2 linked regions of the Homo sapiens genome follow. The protein of the gene in region 1 purifies or fractionates together with the protein of each later gene. This does not show direct contact. Each region holds a gene or a part of one and is shown on either strand. Other genes may lie near its edges.

Region 1 (7,031 bases):
TTCAAACACCACTTCCCAGAAATGCTAAAGAGAGGGTTAGGGTTAGGGTTAAATCGTAGAAGAGACTAGACTATATGATCTCTAAGATCATCTGTTAATTTCTGCTTTAAGTGCATCTGATGGACTTTATGCTAGATATTAAAATTAACACAGGCCAGGCACGATGGCTAGTGCCTGTAATCCCAGCACTTTGGGAGCCCAAGGCGGGCGGATCACGAGGTCAAGAGATCGAGACCGTCCTGGCCAACATGGTGAAAACCTGTCTCTACTAAAAATACAAAAATTAGCTGGGCGTGGTGGCATGTGCCTGTAGTCCCAGCTACTCAGGAGGCTGAGGTAGGAGAATTGCTTGAACCTGGGAAGCAGAGGTTGCAGTGAGCCGAGATTGTGCCACTGCACTCCAGCCTGGCAACAGAGCGAGACTCTGTCTCAAAAAAACAAAAACAAATTAACTTTCAAGCTCAAATTACTAAGAGGCATTGGTAATTTTAAAGAATCAAAAAGGTAGAACAATTTTTTTTTGTCAGGTTTAAGTATGTAATTTTGTCCAAAGGGAGAAAGATCAGGTGATCTCTCAAGCTTCCCTGCCAGTGTGTATCAAGGTTGTCATTTTAATCTGCAAGAGATAAATATTTTACAAATAGTAGCCTAATGGCAAAACAACGAACTTTTTTTTCATGCTTAAGTGGTAAGAGTGTTTATTTTCAATTATGTGGGGGAAGAAATAAATTGGTTAAAAATATTTCACGTTTTATGAAGCTGTAGTTATTGTCTTCAAAGACAGTATGTACATTTGATAAATATTTAATCACTTTTTGAATCAACCTAGGTCAGATGTTTCTATTAAAATGGAACAATTTTATTTTGTTGGACAAAATTTTTACTTCATATAATTGATTTTGACTTACTTTCCTGCACCAGGTTGGAGAAATATTTGGGAAATGCAGATATCTTTTTCGAACCATTTTTACAGGTGGCTTCAGTGTCTGTACAATGTAGTTATTACAGGTAAGTATGTGACTGTTTACATCTGTTGTTTTCATAAGCTTTAAAGCTTAAATCATCATTAGTTGTTGTTTACGACTAACTGTGGCACTCAAACCATTCTTTCAGCCTATACGACATAACACCGTCTCAGATTTCTTTTTTATTTACTCAATTTGACCATGGCAGTATTTTGAGTTTATTTAAGGAACTTGTTTATTTTGCTATTCTCATTGGTAGATGCCTGTTTTAAACTTAATGTAACAAGTATAAAGAAACATAAAGAGATTTTTTCAAGTTCACTAAAGAATTCAGTGGAAAGGCCTGGAATCAAAGAACAGATATAATTTTGTGCTTATAGAGTATATCAAATTTTGTTAGAATAAATTCTGCATGATTTTTCATAAGAGCTTTATCTTTGTACTTCACATATTCCAATTTATATGAAGCTTCTCCTTGAAAGGGCACCACATGCTATACAAAATGAAACGTGTTTATTTGTGGTTAATAATTCTCAGGGGTCATAATGTGCTTGATAAACACATTATATACAGAATCACAAAAAGACAGTGAGACTTGAAACCTGGGATTTCTATCATTAAAACAGATGGGAAAACATCTGGCATATTCCATAACATCAGTCACACAGTACCCTCACTAATGCCACAGAAGACATCAATTTCACAATACTGGGTCAGTGACTGAATTTCAGGCAATGCCATTCAGGCAAATTGTGAAAGATTAGATATTTGCGAAGGAAAAGTATTTTATAAACAGTAACAAACATTTATGAAATGCCTTATGAATATTATCTCAGTTCATCCTCATAATTCTTTGTGGTAAATATCTTCATTTCAAAGATGAGGGCACTGAGGTTCAGAGAGATTGTCTTGCCTAAGCCAAAGAGCAGAGCCAGGATTCAAACTCAGCTCTGTCCCACTCCAGTGCCATTACACCACACTGCTTCCTAAACATTTAATTACTGTTTTCAAAACAAGAACATTAGAGGGGGAAAAAAATCAAACAAGAACTTACTTGTTGGAAAGAAAAAATTCAGCAAAGCTTCCAATGCGGAATCTTCTTCCAGAGATTGGCCATGAGCATTTTCACTGTTGGGCAGGATATGTCCATTTGCAAGCACAAAATATGAGGACCCTTAAGAAGAAGTAAAATTATTAATCCCAACATATAAAGCATTTATCACTTTCAATGACCCTTGAATGGTAATTACCTTTGCTTAAATTAATTATAGAATGTCAAATAGCTAACAGATATACTTTCATCTCATAACAGCTTAAGCATCATTAATAATCAGAATGCAATTTTGTTGTGAAACTGAAAAAGTGTTAAATTTACAAATGCTTAAGCTATAGGCTGACACATGCCATTGTTGTAAGCTGATTTACAATAGTAAACTTGCCTCTGACAAATGGCATTAAGAGGCCTAATCAACTGATGAGCTGAAAACAGTATGTATTCCAACTAAATCAGATCCCATCACAGAAAGTCTTGGAAAATATGTTGGCTTACATATATATTGACAAAAATCAAGGCCTTACATACAGTAAAACCTTCCTTATCCTTCTTTCTCACTATTTTAAAGAACTGGTTTTTAGTCTTATTTACACAATTCCCTCCTACATGAGAGAAGAGGATAACACAGATTTGTCCATAGCATTAAATATTTCCCAAAACTATCTTTAATAATGTCACAGAATTCCATTATATGGCTCTATTATAACTCAGTTAGCAATTTCTCCATAGGAAAACATTTAGGCTGTTTACAATTTATTGATGTTATAAAGAACACTGCAATGATTATCATTACATTATCGTTAGCTTGCAATGATTATCACTGAAGCTTTATATTTATATATTTGCAAATATTCATGAAAAATTACTTAAGATAAATTCTTAAGGCATGGTGGCTCTTGAGTATGTCCAAATTACCCTCCAGCAGGGCAACCCTAAAATACACTTCTACCAGTAGTACAGGCAAGTGCCAGTTTTCTGACACCTCTCCATTTTTTATTATTTGCCAATTTGATGGCCAAAATAAAACAAAATATCTTTTGTTTTAATTTGCAACTTTCATAATCAGTGAGCTTACATATTTCATATTGTGTTGCATAGTAGAGAACTTAACTCTTAATCTGCCACATATTTAAAATATTTTTTTCAAGGTAATTGGTTATCCTTACTTTTTTATGGTGTTTGGGAAGCTCAGAAGCTTAAAATGTTATATGTAATTAAATCTATCAATCTCTTCCTTTATTATTTTTACCTCTATAAAGGCATTCTATACTCTAATACTCCCAACATTTTCATGGTTGTACTTTTTAAATTTAAATATTTAATACACCTGGAGTATATTTTGGAGTGTGTTGTGGAGTAGGGATACGATTTTTCCAGCAGTCATAAGGCCCTTTATTAAATCCATCCTTTTCTGTTATACTTAAGATAACATCATCACATTCTAAATCCTTACTATATCCTTATAGTCATAGATCTGCTTCTTGACTTTCTATTCTGTTCCACCAACCTATCTATTCATGTGCCAATACTAATGTTATTGTTTATTTTATCTTTTCTTTTATTTTTTTTTTGAGACAGAGTATCGCTCTGTTGCCCAGGCTGGAGTGCAATGGCGCAATCTCAGCTCACTGCAACCTCCGCCTTCCTGGTTCAAGTGATTCTTGTGCCTTGGCCTCCCGAGTAGCTGAGATTACAGGCATGCACCATCACGCTCAACTAATTTTTGTATTTTTAGTAGAGACGGGGTTTCACCATGTTTCCCAGGCTGGTATCGTGATCCACCTGTCTAGGCCTCCGTAAGCCACTGCACCCGGCCTATCTTATGTCATTATGTTTTAATAACTGATCTGGTAATCCTTTCATTGTCTCTACTATCAAATTTTATTTTCAGCTCTGAGAATTTTTTAGATGAACCTTAAAATCGTTTTGTCAAGTCAAAAAAAATTCTAAATTTTATGGTAATTATGTTCACTTATTTATCATTCATTCAAAAATCATTTATTGTGTGTCCCACGTGCTAGGCATGAATTCAATTAAATGTAGACTCATTTGGAGAGAATTGATAATGTTACAAAATTTTTTCACCTAAGTAGTTTTGTTTCTCTGTTCATTCAAGTCTCTTTTTATGTCCCTGAATAAGGTTTATCATTGTATTCAGATAGGCCCTGCACTTTTCTTAGTACATTTATTCCCAGGCATCATATATATTTTGTTGTTTTGTGAACATAATCCATTTCACCACATTTTCTAGTGGATTGATGGTATGTAAGAGAGCTATTGATTTTTATACATATATTTTCTTCCTCCCTTAGTTAACTCTCGTTAGTTCTCATTGTTCTTCAGTTTCATTCCAGATAGACAATAATATTATCACTAAATATAGATGACTTTGTCTCCTTTCTTTACAATATTAACACCTGAATTATTTTTCTTCTTTCACTGTATTGCCTAGAAATGTTTAAACTATGTTGATTAATAACCATAATAATGGGCGTTCTTGAGTCATTCCTGACTTTAATGGGAATGTGCTAATATTTCATAATGAAGTATAATGTTGGCTGCTGGTGTAAGATAGATACCCTTTATTAAATTAAGGATGTATTTCTCTAGTTTTAGTTTTCTACAAATTTTCTGTTGTTATTTTGTTTCATTTTGAATCAGGGATAGAACTGGGATTCTATCAAATCCTTTTAATATTTACTGCCATGATGATATTTCCCCCTGCCTATTAATTATTGAATGTTATTAATATATTTGCCAATATTAAAATATTCTTGCATTCTTGAACAAAGTCCACAAGTGCTAATGTTTTATATAGGATTCATGATTCAACATTCCTAAGTGAAGTGTGTCTGCAGTTTTCTTTTGTGTGCTACATCTGTAAATTTTGGCATAAGAGTTATACCTGTTTCATTCATAAAATAACCTAGGAAGCTTCCTGTTGCTTTTCTAGACTAAAACAGATGAAACAATATAGGAATGATTTGATCCATTAAAGGTTTGGGAAAACTCATCCAGAAAAAGTCTGAGTCTTCATTTTTTGGAGAGGGGTAGTTCTTTATCTTTTGCTTCTTCATGGTCACAGTTAATTTTGTTATTTTTATTTTGCTAGGAAATCATCTATTTACAAAGCAATTATTAGCATGGAATCATAAGACTATTCACTTGTAATATTTAAATCTCCTTTATATCAATGATAATATCTTCTTTCTCATTTTAATGAGAGCAACTTCCATACACATACATTTGAATGTGTACTCTCACAATGAACTCTATTATAAATGTTAAATCAAGCTAAATTATATTATGCAAATGCTCTGTATCTTTATTTTTCTGTCAAGGACTAAAAGATAAATATTAAAGTATCTCACCATGATTGTGGTTTTGACGATTTCTACTTAAATTTCTAAAACTATTTGTTTCATATATTCCAATAGTGCATATTCAATCATGACAATTTTATCTTCACTATATATTACACCTTGACAATATTAAACATAATCCATTTTGTCCTGCTTGTTTTCTACTAATGCTTACTCATTATTGAACACCCACTATATTCTGTGTTTTGAGGATATATCAGTGAACAAGTCAGACAAGATCCCTGCCCTCATGGAGCTTACTACAATGCAGTGGAGAAGACAGACCACTAACAAATTAAGTAATTACAAATTGTAATGAGTGCTATGAAGAAAAGTGGATACTGATACAGAATAAAGGAGGGGGGCTACTTTAAATGGGAGCCAGTCTCTCTGAGGAGATGATATTTAAGTGGAAAAAAAAAAAAGACTAGAAGTAGCTGGCTGAACAAAGGGCCTGGGAGAGTGCTTCCAGCACAAGGACAAGAAATGAGATTAATGTTGCTAGGCACATTTTGCCAGATCAGAGAACCCTCTGTCCTACATGACATGAGAAGGGAGCTACAGATGGAAGGGACCTTGACAAGACTTTAGTTCCATATTGCTGTTTGTTTGCTCAGTGTTCCCCTTCGTCAATTTGCTGTCCTTGTTGCCACTCGATTCAGCACACCATCTGAAGTAAGTGTTGGCTGACAGTAGCACACTGAGGCCCAAGTCTCCATCCTAAGTTATATTCAGCAAGTTATGTGCTCTCTGGAATTCCTCTAGAATATTGATCCCCCAACTTAGAGTCCCCAACTCAGAGTGCCCTAGCCTCCAGACCCTGCTGGACAGGCTTGCCCTTGGCTTGACATGAAACACAAGTTGCTGTGATTTCTCTCCATCATGTTTTTATCTTTCAGAGAACCCTCCAAGTTTCTGGCATATAGATGCCAGATGGAAACTTTCTAGGTTCTCCAGGTTTTCACCCTTTATAGATCTTTCGGTCATTACAATGGGCATTGAAATGAAAGCGACAATTAAACATCTTAACTAAGATGAGCAACATCAGTGGCAGTCTCAACCATAAGTCTAGAATATATTTTACCCTGCCCTCCACCTTTGGTTTCTTCCGTACTCTGAAAGAAAATTATTTTTAAATTAATTTGAGCAGTATGTCTCAAAGTGTAGTCTATCACTAGTAGTACATAAGAATTTTAGGTGGAACATAGATGAATATTTATGGATATATTAATGTTTGCTATGAGTTTATTTGAAAGTGTAAAAGAAAAAAATGAGTAACATATCAAACCTACCATGACACCAAACACGGCTGACATCACTTGCCATAGGGCAAATCTTTATAAACTTTGTCTTTTTTGATACTTTGAGTTCTGGGATACATGTGCAGAATGTGCAGGTTTGTTACATAGGTATACATGGGCCATGGTGGTTTGCTGCACCCATCAACCCGTCATCTACATTAGGTATTTCTCCTAATGCTCTCCCTCCTCTAGCCCCCCACCCCCTGACAGGCCCTGGTGTGTGATGTTCCTCTCCCTGTGTCCATATGTTCTCATTGTTCAACTCCCACTTATGTGTGAGAACATGCGGTGTTTAGTTTTCTGTCCCTGTGTTAGTTTGCTGAGAATGATGGTTTCAAGCCTCATCCAT
Region 2 (7,031 bases), on another chromosome or scaffold:
AACTAGGAACTGACTACCTTCCAACACACAAGCTCTTCATCCTTCTAAAGGATTATTCTCAGTTTAGTCTTCAGGGGAACTGATGGATTCTTCTCAAACTTTTCTGGCAGCTATCAGACTTCTCTTTTGTACTTCACAAACTGAAATTTGTAGATGAATTAATTTGACTGTGAGTCCCAAAGCAAGCTGAAGAAATGGGTCTGGCACCACATTTCTCGAACCTCAAGGCTGGTGTTTTCTTCACAGCCTCAAATGAAGGGGCTGCATTTCTAAGATTTTTTTTTGACTCTAACATTCTATTAATAGACTTTTAATTTAGTTTGGTGTGTGTATAGAAAACCACTTAACGTTTCTATCTTGAACAGAAAGTTTTCTATCCCTAAAACATTACTTTAAGAAACTGTGGGCCAGGTACAGTGGCTCACGCCTGTAATCCCAGCACTTTGGGAGGCTGAGGCAGGCAGATCACCTGAGGTCAGGAGTTTGAGACCAGCCTGGCGAACATGGTGAAACTCCACCTCTACTAAAAATACAAAAATTAGCCAGGTGTGGTGGCACATGCCTGTAATCCCAGCTACTTGGGAGGTTGAGGCAGGAGAATCACTTGAACCTGGGAGGCGGAGGTTGCAGTGAGCCGAGATCACGCCTCTGCATTCCAGCCTGGGCAACAGAGTGAGACTCTGTCTAAATAAATAAATAAGTAAATAAAATGGTAGAATGCTATTTTCTATGAAAATCAAAGAGAAACAAACTCCCTAGAGAATAAAGATGAAAAAAACTCACCTTTCAAATTATCAAAGTGCACCCAGGAAGCAACCTCTGGTTTTTTGGTTTCTACATCAGTTTCAGGAACTGTTTCCTCTGTCTCAAGTTTTTTCACTATCTCTGTTTCTTTGTCTGCATCAGTGAATTTTTCCATGTCTTCATCATCATTTGCATCAATAAAATTTTCTTCATCATCAGACTCCTAACAAAAGTATAGTTTCATAAATCTACATAAATCAACTGGAAGTTGCAATAAAGTCTGTGCTCCATTATGTGATGCAGAGTTTTACTTATTGCAACTCTGGTGAAACGTGAAAGTTCTAATAAAGTAAAATGATGGCTATCAATGGTATTTAAACAAGAGAGGAGATTACATCCTTATTTCTAAACATAACACAGTTAAGTTTTGAGCTAAGAACCCCTGAGCCTTAAGGACTCTAATACTTGAAAACAATTAGCCCTCAAGTAAATTTCTGACTTGTAAATAACCCTATGAGGTAGGTACTATTATTTCCATTTCATTGTTAAGGAAGAAGACTTAAGAGGTCTACTAAGTTTTATAGTCTTCCAAATCTCATATAATGGTAGCTTCTAGTATAGTACAGTTTATTGCAAGTAGAAGAGTTGAGCAACATGCCCACCTAGTAAACTGTACAGCTGGTACTAAAATCTAGGTTTGTCCTATTCCAGAACTCACACTCATATGCTCCAGAGAACTAGGTTACTGTCATTTGAAGCAAAGAAAAACAAAACAAAAACCAATATATTTCAGCACCCACTCAATTTAAAAAGCAGTTGTAAAATATACCGGATGATCATCTAGTTGGCTTCTTAAACCTGGTTTTGCTTTAAGGATCTCAGACACAAGATATAAAGCTCCACATATAAATGGTGGCATCTGTTGACAAGTAACTTGAAGTAACCTCTTCACAAAAGCCTTCACCCGGCGCAACACAATGTCAGCTTTCAGAGATTTGTAGACAAGGTTAAGAAACATAGCTTGCTTGGAACACGTCATCAACCCTGGATCCAACATCTTCCTGCAAAACAAAACCAAGGTCAAATATTTATGTATAAAACCATCTCCACAACCAATGGTCACATATTAGAAATAGCTACTAACCTCATCTTAGTTAGGGATAACTTTGCTGCTTATTTTAGAACAAGAGACCCTGCCCTAAGAGGTAAGATGGAAGTCAATGACCAGAAAAGGATGATGATGGCACCAGGAAAAACCAACAGCAACAGACACAGGAATAGGCATTTTTGAGTGTGTGGTTTTCTTGTCTTTTCCAAGTGTTTTTCTGTTTTCTATATCAACAGGGCACAGCCCTAACAGTATTTACAGAACCCCACCAGAAAAGCTAATCTAAAACCAGATAGTGAAAACTGACCCATGAAAGCAGAACATTAGAAGATTTGGGTTTTTGTCCTTGTATAACTACCTACTAGCAGGGGGACCAGAGGCCGCCTCTTCATGATTTTAGTGAAGACCATCGATGAACAGCAGAAAATTAAATTCTAAGGACTTCAGAGAATCTCTAGTCCAATGTACTAGCTGTGTAACATTCCTCTCATACACGCTATTTTCACTGCCCAGAGTGCTTCTCTCCAACTCTCTGCATGTCCACAGTATCCAAAATTGGTTCTTCTATTAGTCTCTCAGTCCCATGTTTGTGTTCTTCATAGTTTCACAAACTTGATTTTCCTGCCTTTCCCTCTTCTCTAAAGGTCCAATGAAATAGGGATTATGCCTGTTATTCACTGTTGTAACCCCAGTGCCTGGCAGTTAATACCTTTACATGACAGTTTTCCAAATACTTGAACCTATTTAGCTATTATGTGCTTGTCTCTCCCTAATGTCTGTCTTCTGTAGGCTGCTCTACTTTGATCTCATGATACTTTAAAAATTCTCTATCCTAGGTGCTGAATCCTACACATGTCCCCAACCGGTCTAGACCTGCAGATATTAGGACACCCAGAATTAACACAATCCTCCAGATTAGCTCTATTAACACCTGGAATCATTACTTCCTTTGTTTTAAGCATTTCCATTAATTTTTTCCTACTAACACTAGAAATGAAAAATACTTAAGCTTGTGAAGCACTTTCCTATTGCTCTGAATACTCTGGGAAATATCACCCTTTTGGTAATATTCTGGGATATTCTGGATTATTCAATTTTCTCTCTTTACATTTAAATTTTCCCTCTTTACATTTAAATTTTCCAACATTTCCATCCATTTTGCAATTTATTATTAGGCATAAATTACATCTCACATCAACAGAAACATCTGAGAAGAATTTAGAGACATGTCTCTATCATTTCATGAAATATTTTCCTAATGTTTTGATAAATATTTTTGTAAACCAAATCATGTCATTTCTTTTATCCCTCAATTAACTAGGGGTTTTCTTAATGTGAAGGATTCCTAATAAAACCAAGAGCAAACAAACACTTTAAGAAGGCCTAAAGGCCTGTTAAGAAACTCCATCTGTGAGCGCTTTTGGCAAATAGTAATTTCAAAAACTTAAAAATCCACCCTTCCTCAGAGATGTTAGACTATGATGTTAAATAGAGACAGAAAAATGTTTTCTAATAGATTTCAAACACTTTCTAAAAATCAAAAATTCCTATGACCATCAAAAGTTCAAAATAATGAAACCACCCCCCTTCAAAACAAACAAACAAACAAACAAACAAACAAACTAACAAAAACAAAACTCAAGATCCCGAAACCTCTACATTTTCAGCCTTGGAACTCTTTTCAAATTAACAGTGTTAAGTTATCTATTACTTCAAAGAGTTGTGGAAAGGCTTCTGAGTCTTTTTAGTGGACCAGAGCAATCAGTGCTATGAAATGTCATGAAATCTACAGCAAGTGGACCTGGACTTGCCACCTAACTTGGTCTCTTAATATCTGTGTGACCTTGCCCAAATTATTGTATCTCACAGTGTGGGGAAAAGGAAGAGAGATCAGATTGTTACTGTGTCTGTGTAGAAAGAAGTAGACATAGGAGACTCCATTTTGTTATGTACTAAGAAAAATTCTTCTGCCTTGAGATTCTGTTAATCTATAACCTTACCCCCAACCCCGTGCTCTCTGAAACATGTGCTGTGTCCACTCAGAGTTGAATGGATTAAGGGCGGTGCAAGATGTGCTTTGTTAAACAGATGCTTGAAGGCAGCATGCTCCTTAAGAGTCATCACCACTCCCTAATCTCAAGTACCCAGGGACACAAAAACTGCGGAAGGCCGCAGGGACCTCTGCCTAGGAAAGCCAGGTATTGTCCAAGGTTTCTCCCCATGTGATAGTCTGAAATATGGCCTCGTGGGAAGGGAAAGACCTGACCGTCCCCCAGCCCGACACCCGTAAAGGGTCTGTGCTGAGGAGGATTAGTAAAAGAGGAAGGAATGCCTCTTGCAGTTGAGACAAGAGGAAGGCATCTGTCTCCTGCCTGTCCCTGGGCAATGGAATGTCTCGGTATAAAACCCGATTGTATGCTCCATCTACTGAGATAGGGAAAAACCGCCTTAGGGCTGGAGGTGGGACCTGTGGGCAGCAATACTGCTTTGTAAAGCATTGAGATGTTTATGTGTATGCATATCTAAAAGCACAGCACTTAATCCTTTACATTGTCTATGATGCAAAGACCTTTGTTCACGTGTTTGTCTGCTGACCCTCTCCCCACAATTGTCTTGTGACCCTGACACATCCCCCTCTTCGAGAAACACCGACAGATGATCAATAAATACTAAGGGAACTCAGAGGCTGGCGGGATCCTCCATATGCTGAACGCTGGTTCCCCGGTTCCCCTTATTTCTTTCTCTATACTTTGTCTCTGTGTCTTTTTCTTTTCCAAATCTCTCGTCCCACCTTACGAGAAACACCCACAGGTGTGTAGGGGCAACCCACCCCTACATCACAGACTGGAGAGCTGTTAAGAGGATTAAACTAAAGAAACATGGATGACTATCAGTAATAAGGATAGCCGCCAACATTTCACATAGCACTAAGTGTTAGGCACTGTTAAGCACTTAATATACATAGAAAGATTACATGGGTTAACACACATAACCTCCCAACCTTCATTAAAGCCCCAGTTCTGTCATTTACAAGCTGTAGAACCTTGTGCAAGTTTCAAAATCTTCATAATAATCATATGAGATAGCTGCTTTTCTCTCCATCCTACAGACAAATCCACTTAAGCATGATAACATGGGATGAATTATGTCTACCAATAGGTTTTTAGTGGGGATCAAGTAATTTGCCCAAAATTACACAGAAAACTAATGGCAGGGACTCAAACCCAGGCGGCGTGGCTTAAGTCTAAGATACGAACCACTACTCCACATTTTCTCACAAGATATATCTATGTAAAAATATAAAAATGAATCAGAAGGAAATATATTAATTTCTTGAACACAGTTGCTATGTTCGACTGTCTCTTAAACAGCTCCAAACTGTTTACACATTGCTGAAAATATGATGCCTCAATGGGTGAGTTGCAAAATTCAGTAAAGAAAATCTTCATCTCCATTAAAAAACAACAACAAAAAAAACCCTGCACCCTGCATCCCCCAAAACTCTCTACTTAACATACTTTGTTTACCACCGCTCCCCTCTCTGCCACCTCCTCCAATATGAATGTGAGCGCCTCCAGGGGTGGGATTTCTGTTCGCTGTGCCTCCTGTGCACCTAGAGCATGGCACCATACTGCAGGCACTCAGAAAATACTTGTTGAATGAGTTACTGTGTGAATGCATTCAACTGTGTGAAAGACAGCAGGGAAAAGATAGAGGACTGAGGAGAATGGGAAGACGGAAACTGCAATTATATCTGCAATTTTATTTCTTTAATATCCCAAAAGATTTAAAACAAATATAGCAAAATGTTAATTCTGAAATACTAGGTGGTAGATATGAATGAATCTTTTGGGTATTTTTCTGTATTTTACAACCTCTCAAAATGAAAAATGTATTCAAAGCATCTAATATAATTTGTGCCCATCAGGGAAACAAAGATTAAGTGACTTACTTGAAGGTGGCGAGTAGCAAGCTGCTGAGGGGGCCTAAAACCAAATTTTCTAACTCTTTTTCTTGCCCCACAGAGGGCACTGCTTGTGCTGTACTACATCAAGTTATTATTTCATGTCTCATATTGGAAGGGTATGTTCTTACCTGTATAATGCTGTGTAATATCGATCCGATATTGTCTGCTGAGAATTCATTACTTGGAAAAGCAACATTAAAGCCTGGACACTGGTATTAAAATTCACAATATGCAACACTTTAAACAGTGTGTCAATCTGCTCCCTTACTTTGTCATCACCAGTCTGGGAATAAGGGTATGCCCTATTCACACCTGTTAAAAGGGCGCTAAGCATTTTTGATTCAACATCTTTTTTTTTGACACAAGTCCGAAAAAAGCAAAAGTAAACAGTTATTAATTTGTTAGCCAATTCACTTTCTTCATGGGACAGAGCCATTTGATTTAAAAAGCAAATTGCATAATATTGAGCTTTGGAGCTGATATTTGAGCGGAAGAGTAGCCTTTCTACTTCACCAGACACAACTCCTTTCATATTGGGATGTTTACAAAGTAATGTCTCTAACAGATGGGATGCTTTTGTGGCAATTCTGTTCTGAGGATCTCCCAGTTTATTTACCACTTGCACAAGAAGAGCCTTTTCTTCCTCAGGCTTGTTACAAAGCAGCTCATGAGCCACGGTAAGGGCTCGAGTTTTAGTGGTTACTAATGTATCATGACTTAAAGTTTCTAAGACCTGCACAAATTCAGCCACTAAGTGTTTCAGCTGGTGTTCAAAATACCATAATATCAGTCTTCTATCTCTTGAGTCCTTGTTGCCACTGGACAACTGTTCCAGTTTGTCAAAAGGACGCTGGCTGAAAATCCTCAGCTTCCGATTGTCTGGCAAAAGGTCTGTGATAAGCAACTCTTTGAAAGTATCCAAGGCCATAAGGCACTGCTGTTTGCTGCCCTTCTTTTTAACAAGGTTCACAAGAGTTTCTACAAACTGAAGTGTGTGAACGGCATCATCCTGAATAAGAAGAATCATGGCTGCCATCCTGTCACCTAGTGTCCCCGATGACACAATTGCCTTCATCCAGGTAGAAGAGGCTCCCTTTTGACTATTCGTCTTACTTTTGAATAAGTTGATTTCATGCTGATACAGCTTCTGAGCAAGGGTTTTGTACTTAGATACAACATCCTGAGGCTGGGGTTTCAAAGAATATTCATTGC

The links.
Region 2: the proteins of FMR1NB (region 1) and CEBPZ purify together in Homo sapiens (affinity purification with mass spectrometry; 3 studies listed by BioGRID and IntAct, with this or other methods). This does not show direct contact.

Annotation. Positions count from the first base shown.
Region 1 is NC_000023.11:147,998,309-148,005,339, reverse strand, and holds part of FMR1NB (FMR1 neighbor protein), read right to left. Parts: intron 2,140-7,031; coding exon 2,020-2,139; intron 1-2,019.
Region 2 is NC_000002.12:37,221,597-37,228,627, forward strand, and holds part of CEBPZ (CCAAT/enhancer-binding protein zeta), read right to left. Parts: coding exon 5,948-7,031; intron 1,806-5,947; coding exon 1,574-1,805; intron 968-1,573; coding exon 784-967; intron 1-783. UniProt on the Homo sapiens protein: Stimulates transcription from the HSP70 promoter.